Homo sapiens: one gene and its partner. The protein of the gene in region 2 interacts with the protein of the main gene of each other region in a pairwise test. Each region holds a gene or a part of one and is shown on either strand. Other genes may lie near its edges.

Region 1 (3,500 bases), on a different chromosome or scaffold from region 2:
CCTTGAATTACAGCTATGACTCATAGAGCTTTTGAACATATTTAATTTAATGTTTTTGAGACATTATCAAAAGAGTTCTAATTCATTGTAAACTATTTGGGGATCAGTTATTGCATTTAAATTGAAAAGACTGCTTTTTCTCAGAATAACCTTTATCTTCAGAAACTATTATGCAAGAGAAAATGCTCTGCATTCTCTTCCCTATGCTAGATTATAATTCAGTTTTAACTTCAGTTTCATGTTTGTTCTGTATGGTTGAGCTACACCTTGTGATGACTGTTTTGTTGTGAGATATAGTAGTTGTTTTTGTGTCATTATAGGTACAAAGAGTTTTTAAATTATGTGTTATTTTTCTTTATTGTTTTATGTTGCATTTGTATATAAAGAAATATGCTAATTCTCTATTTTAGGGAATTTTAAATGTTGGAAAAAAAATAACCAAAAGTTGCAGTAAGATTTTTAACTCTTAATAAATTTCCTCAGAAGGGGATATTCATAAAAATCAAAATGCCCAGGTATCTCTATTTAAAATATTTGTGATTATTTTCTACCCCCGTATAATATACTTGATGAAATCACCTTTTAAGTTACCATCTAACTATATCAGTTTCATTGGGGGCATTTTACAGATGGCTGCATTACAAAGTCCTTTCTATGGTGACAAAATGAATTTATACTCACTGTGTAAGAAGATAGAACAGTGTGACTACCCACCTCTTCCTTCAGATCACTATTCAGAAGAAGTAAGTCATTTTCAGCCCACATGTTCTTCTGTTGTCCATTTTGCTAACATTTTTATTTTACCAAGAAATTTTACTTTATCCAAAAATGAAAATGAATGGTATAGGTAGCAGAACTAGCACTTTTTAATTCTGTTTTCATTCTCTTGGAGACTTGCTGTCTAAAGAGTTGACTCTGCAATTGATAATGTGTAGTGCAACACAACACAGCATGTGGTGTAAAATTGGCCACTTTCTAGGTGTGATAAGAATAGTAGCTGACTCTACAGTGTACTGAATCGTGCAAAGGGCAGAATTAATGCTCATACTTAGGCTCTAGTTAATCATCATGTCTGATGGCCCTTCCTAACAGGGCTAACTCCTTATTCTCACAGTCCCAGACCAGACCAGCACACAGTTGTAATTTTCTATTTTGGCAGAACTTCCCTTTCGTCCATGTTTTCCAAAACTCGAAACACGCATCTCTTAACTACATATCTCTGAGCCTTATTATTTAAGCTTTACCTTCTCTCCTTTGACAATACCTGTCCTATCATCACCTCACTGCTATACTCAGATTCTACTGGGGAAATGTTTCGAGGTTATCATTGTAGACATGTTTAAAAAGTGTGTTAGTTGTGGCTGAAAATCTTAGAAGGCTACCTTATTAAGATCTGAGTCTGAATGCTTGCTTGCTTGCTTTGGTAACCCATTGAAGTGAGTTGTTTTGGCTCTACCCTATGTCCAGTCTTTCATTGAACAAAACATCTCCCATTTTAGCCTAACGTATCATCATTTTACGAATATTTAAGGAGGATGTATGCAGAATAGCAGTATCTCAGGTCAACTAAAATGTTTCATATTAGCTCTTTATGGAATACTCATCAGGGACCTACCCAGAGAAAATAGTGTGTTGAGTTAGGACATCGCACCTTCTCATGAGCAACAGATTTTTTGCCTCAGGAAAATGGAAAGGAGAAAAGGAAAAATATAAAACAATTATAATGTTCACTTATTAGGTAATCATGTCAGTCTTTCTATTGTGAAACGAATAGCATAGGGTCTTAGTATTATGTAAGGAAATTTGAGTTCGTGTAACTTGAATAATAAATATCTCTAAAGAATTTTCACCACATGTAAAGCATTTGTGTTCCTAGAATATAATAGGCACTTTTTCTTCTGGTAGTTTTGATACTGATAATCAGTGATGCCTGTTTTTTTCTGCATAGCATTTGTATTCAGGTAATTAGAATAAACTGTTACAGAGCAGTGATGATAATTTAAAAGTATTATCTTTATTTGATGTTAATACTATTATGTTAGCCATTTTTAATTACTATTTTGGGTATAGACTATAAATATGGCATTTCACAAAACCAACTTCAGAACTATAGGCCTGGAAATACAGTGGGGTGTGAACAATAATGCAAAATGATAGCAAGAATGTCAGGGGCCTTTCTTTGTTGTGTCATTCATGCTGTCTTCTTTTTTCCATGAAGCGCATGAATATTTCACATATCTGCATCCTCATCCCCTATTCTTCTTGACTAATTTTCAGACTGTCTGAATTTGCATTTCACATGGTAGCTGATTAGGAGATGCCGAGTGCAGCAGTGAAGCCTCAGCAGGCGGTTACCATGGTGACCTTCAGCAGGATTTTAATGATGATACCACTAGTGGTTCGTTGAAGTCGGCCTGCCTGCAGGGCTACTTCACTGCAGCTAAGTGTGAAGTTGGATATGCGGATTCTCAGCCAAGGGGCAAATATCAAAGTCTGGCCCAGATAGAAGGTCTTAGAGTTGGGAAAGGAAAATAGATTCCACTTTTTACTTCACTCTATATAGTTACCAGTTTCGAAAAGAGCTGTAAAGCAAAACACATTATATGGTGTACTTTCCAAAAAAATGTGATTCCTCGTATTGGTAAAATGTGTTGTCATTCCCTGATGAAATAGAAAGCTGTAGTTTCTAGGTAAATGTGGAAAATAATTCTTACTAAAGAAATGAATATAAAAATATGCGGACTGTATAACAATGTTACTTTAATCTATTTAGTTATGTAGAAGAGTTCTCAAAACAAGAGCTTTGAAATGCAGATGTGCTAATAAATATTTTCTCTCCTTAAGCAGGAACTCAATTTGTAAAATAATTATTCAGAATTCATGGTAGCCAAAAATCCCAAATTTGGTAGTGCTATAATGTCTTAAATTTTTTAAGTAAAGTAGGCTTTTTAGATCTTTTAAAAATCTAGAATATCATTTAATTTGTTAGTATGGCAAAATACAGGAACTAATAAAAAGTGAAGTACAGAGTTTTTCAACAGTGAACTTTTAATTAAAAGACAGTTTATTTTGTTAATTTTATAGCTACAATGATAACAGAGTGTGTAACTATTTGAAAAATAAAAAAATTTAAGCAAATCAACTTATCAGGTATGTATTTATGAGCTTACCAAATTTGTGTAGCTACTGCCAAATTTTTAAGGTTACTGCCCAAACAAGATTTTAAGGGAGGATTTCATGAGAATACTAGCCATACCTGCCAGTCAGCCTCAGTTGATAGGAATCCTCAGGAACCCTACACAATTTATTTCTAGATATAGTCATTCTATCTAAGAACCTAGAGTTTAAAAGCTTGGGATTTTTCTTTTAATTTCCTATCTTATATTCTAAAACATACATAACAATTAAGCATTAAAACAAAAAATGAGAAGTTTTAGAAAAATAAGCCTGAATGTCAAATCTTTTCTTTTGAATTATGTGAGTCTTAGTGTGTACAAATA
Region 2 (3,500 bases):
TTTGTGCATATATGCTCCCCTATGATATTTATAATTTACACAAATAAAAGTCTGTTAAAAAAGACTGTAACTGATATGATTAAAATATTTTGTTGAAACTTTAATATATTATAGTGAGGTATTTTCTGCTGAAATATGAGGTTTGCTTCAAAATAATCTGGGCGGGGGTGAAAGGATGAAAGGAAGAAAAGATGAAGTAAGAGAGGCTATGTGTTGTTGGCCTTGCATCTGGGTGATAGGTACATGGGCATCATTGCACTACTCTTTCTACTTTCGTGTATGTTGAAAGGTTCCTGTAATAAACAGTTTTTTAAAGTTCCAATAAATTAGATTGTTATCACTAAAACCATAAAGATTCTTGGCAGCGGTTCTTTTGGCATACAATTTGTATGTAATTATATGTGGCCATGGTTGGTTTCCTTAAATATTTTTAATTCCTTTTCTCCTTTTCAATACAGGTTAAAGGTGAATCCTTGTTTCATTCTAAGAAAATGGACCTGACAGTAAATGGGGAACAACTGGATCTGGATCCTGGTCAAACTTTAATTTATTATGTTGATGAAAAAGCACCTGAATTCTCAATGCAGGGTCTAAAAGCTGGTGTTATTGCTGTTATTGTGGTTGTGGTGATAGCAGTTGTTGCTGGAATTGTTGTGCTGGTGAGTACAGAACAAGTAAAATTTCATTTAAGGGTATATTTTTTCAAGAAAAAGTAATAGTGGCTGGGCGCGGTGGCTCACCACACCTGTTATCCCTACACTTTGGGAGGCTGAGACAGGTGGATCACTTGAGCCCAGGAGTTTGAGACCACACTGGGCAACATGGTGAAACCTTATCTGTAGTAAAAATACAAAAATTAGTCAGATGTGATGGCTTGCACCTGTGGTCCCATCTACTTAGGAGGCTGATGTGGGAGTGGTCAGTTGAGTCCAGGAGGTCAAAGCTGCAGTGAGCCATGATCACACCACTGCACTCCAGCCTGGGCAACACAGCAGGACCCTGTCTCAAAAAGAAGAAAAAAGGAAATATGAAAAAGTAACATCCATATTCCAAAACATTCAGGGAAAAAAATCTTCATTTTTAAATAATTTTTTTATGGTGAATGAATCTATTGTATCTCTGGTCTCTTTTTACAAAAGTCATTTTATGAAGCAAGAAAGGATGCTAATATTAAAAAGCTTGTGGCTGTGCACCTCACAGGCCAGTTAAATTGCCATCTAGCAGCAAGCGTCTTTCAGTTGTCACTGCAAACAATTCAACACCTAGTGCAAAATACCTGAACCCCCAAACCACTCAATAAGATGGAACAACAGAACACAAAGTTAACGTTAGCCATACAAAAGAGTTAAAAGTGATATGTGAATCAATACTTCCAAGTAAAGATGAGCAAATTGAATTTAACAGTGCTTCAGCAAAAGAATGTATTGCTTGAAGAAGTGAAAGGTTTATTTTAGGAATGTAAGGATGCTTCGGTATCAAGAAATCTTACTAACACTGGCCAGGTGTGATGGCTCAGGCCTGTAATCGCAGCACTTTGGAAGGCTGAGGCGGGTAGATCACTTGAGATCAGAAGTTCGAGACCAGCCTGGCCAACATGGTGAAACCCTGTCTCTACTGAACATACAAAAAAATTAGCTGGGCGTGGTGGCACATGCCTGTAATCTATTCGGGAGGCTGAGGCAGGAGAATAGCTTGAACCTGGGAAGCAGAGGTTGTAGTGCGCCAAGATCATGCCACTGCACTCTAATCTGGGTGACAGAGCAAGACTCTGTCTCAAAAAAAAAAAAAAAAAAAAAAAAAAAAAGGCCAGGCACAGTGGCTCATGCCTGTAATCCCAGCACTTTGGGAGGCTGAGGCGGGTGGATCACCCGAGGTCGGGAGTTCGAGACCAGCCTGACCAACGTGGAGAAACCCCATCTCTACTAAAAATACAAAATTATCCGGGCATGGTGTCTCATGCCTGTAATCCCAGCTACTCAGGAGGCTGAGGCAGGAGAATCACTTGAACCCAGGAGGTGGAGGTTGCAGCTGAGATCATGCCATTGCACTCCAGCCTGAGCAACAAGAGTGAAACTCCGTCTCAAAAAAAAAAAAAAAAAAAAGAAATCTTACTAACACAACAGAATTCAGAAAGAGGTTTGAGGGTATTTAGGAACTTAGATTTCCAGTTCAATCAACCATGTTTGGCTATCCATCTGGAACAAAATGAAAGTTGAATTCCTATTTCACTCCACCAGGCTGGCCATATTGCCCAGCTGTGTGAGGGTGGCATGTCCAGAGCACAGTAGTAGGAAAGGCGTTGGGCAGTGTATCCATTTTCAAAGACATTTACATATTTAAAAATACAAAAAAGTAAACTCCCAAGAAAATTAATTGAGGGAATGTTTGTACAACCTTGTGGTAGGGGAAATTATGTAAGGCAAGAAATCTGGAATCCATGAAAGAAAAGATACATATATGTGTATGTATATTTTGAGAGAGGGTCTTGCTGTGTCACCCAGGCTGGAGTGCAGTAGCATGATCATAACTCACTGCAACCTCCAATTCCTGGACTTAAGTAATCCTCCTGACCTATCCTCCCAAGTAGCAAGGACTACAGGTATGTGCCACTATACCTGGCTAATTTTTTAATTTTTAGTAGAGACGAATTCTTGCTATGGCTGCCGAGGCTGGGCTTGAACTCCTAGGCTCAAGCAGTTCTTTTGGCTTAGCCTCCCAAACTGCTGGGATTACAGGCATGAGCCATTGCACCTAGTCCTATATATATATATTTTGGCTTCATTAAAATTAAGCATTTTATATGGCAAAGAAACTGTAAAGTAAAAAATAACGATGGGCATGAAAAAAATATGGCGCATAAAGCAAAAATGGATATTATACATAATATACAAAGAGTTCTTACAAATTGATGAGGAAACCTAAAGAAAGAATGACAACAGGTAGGGATAGACAGTTAATAGAAATTTCAGATGGCAAATGAACACAAGTGGTTAATGCTGGAAGTCTAATTGTTCTGTAGAAATAAATGAAAACACAAGTGCAATAAGGAAGCACATTGTTATTGTATCATAGCATTGCTTGTAAAGGTGAATCTGGCCAGGCGTGGTGGCTTACGCCTATAATCCCAGCACTTTGGGAGGCTGAGGTGGGCAGATCACCTGAGGCTGGGAGTCCGAGACCAGCCTGACCAACACGGAGAAACCCCGTCTCTACTAAAAATACAAAATGAGCCAGGCATGGTGGTGCATGCCTGTCATTCTGGCTACTCAGGAGGCTGAGGCAGGAGAGTCACTTGAACCCAGGAGGCAGAGGTTGTAGTGAGCCGAGATCATGTCATTGCACTCCAGCCTGGGCAACGAGAGCAAAACTCTGTCTCAAAAAATGAATAAAAACAACAACAAAAGTGAATCTGGAAAATAGCCTGAGTGTGTATCAGTAAGAGAGTAAATTATGTTTATTGTATCTACGATAGGGAATAATGTGAATGGTGAATGAGTTCG

Evidence for each region. The genes of interacting proteins can lie anywhere in the genome.
Region 1: the proteins of EPCAM (region 2) and NEK7 interact in binary tests that used the Homo sapiens proteins (3 or more experiments, as listed by UniProt).

The regions. Positions count from the first base shown.
Region 1 is NC_000001.11:198,296,498-198,299,997, forward strand, and holds part of NEK7 (serine/threonine-protein kinase Nek7), read left to right. Parts: intron 1-629; coding exon 630-743; intron 744-3,500. UniProt on the Homo sapiens protein: Protein kinase which plays an important role in mitotic cell cycle progression. Required for microtubule nucleation activity of the centrosome, robust mitotic spindle formation and cytokinesis.
Region 2 is NC_000002.12:47,379,311-47,382,810, forward strand, and holds part of EPCAM (epithelial cell adhesion molecule precursor), read left to right. Parts: intron 1-458; coding exon 459-659; intron 660-3,500.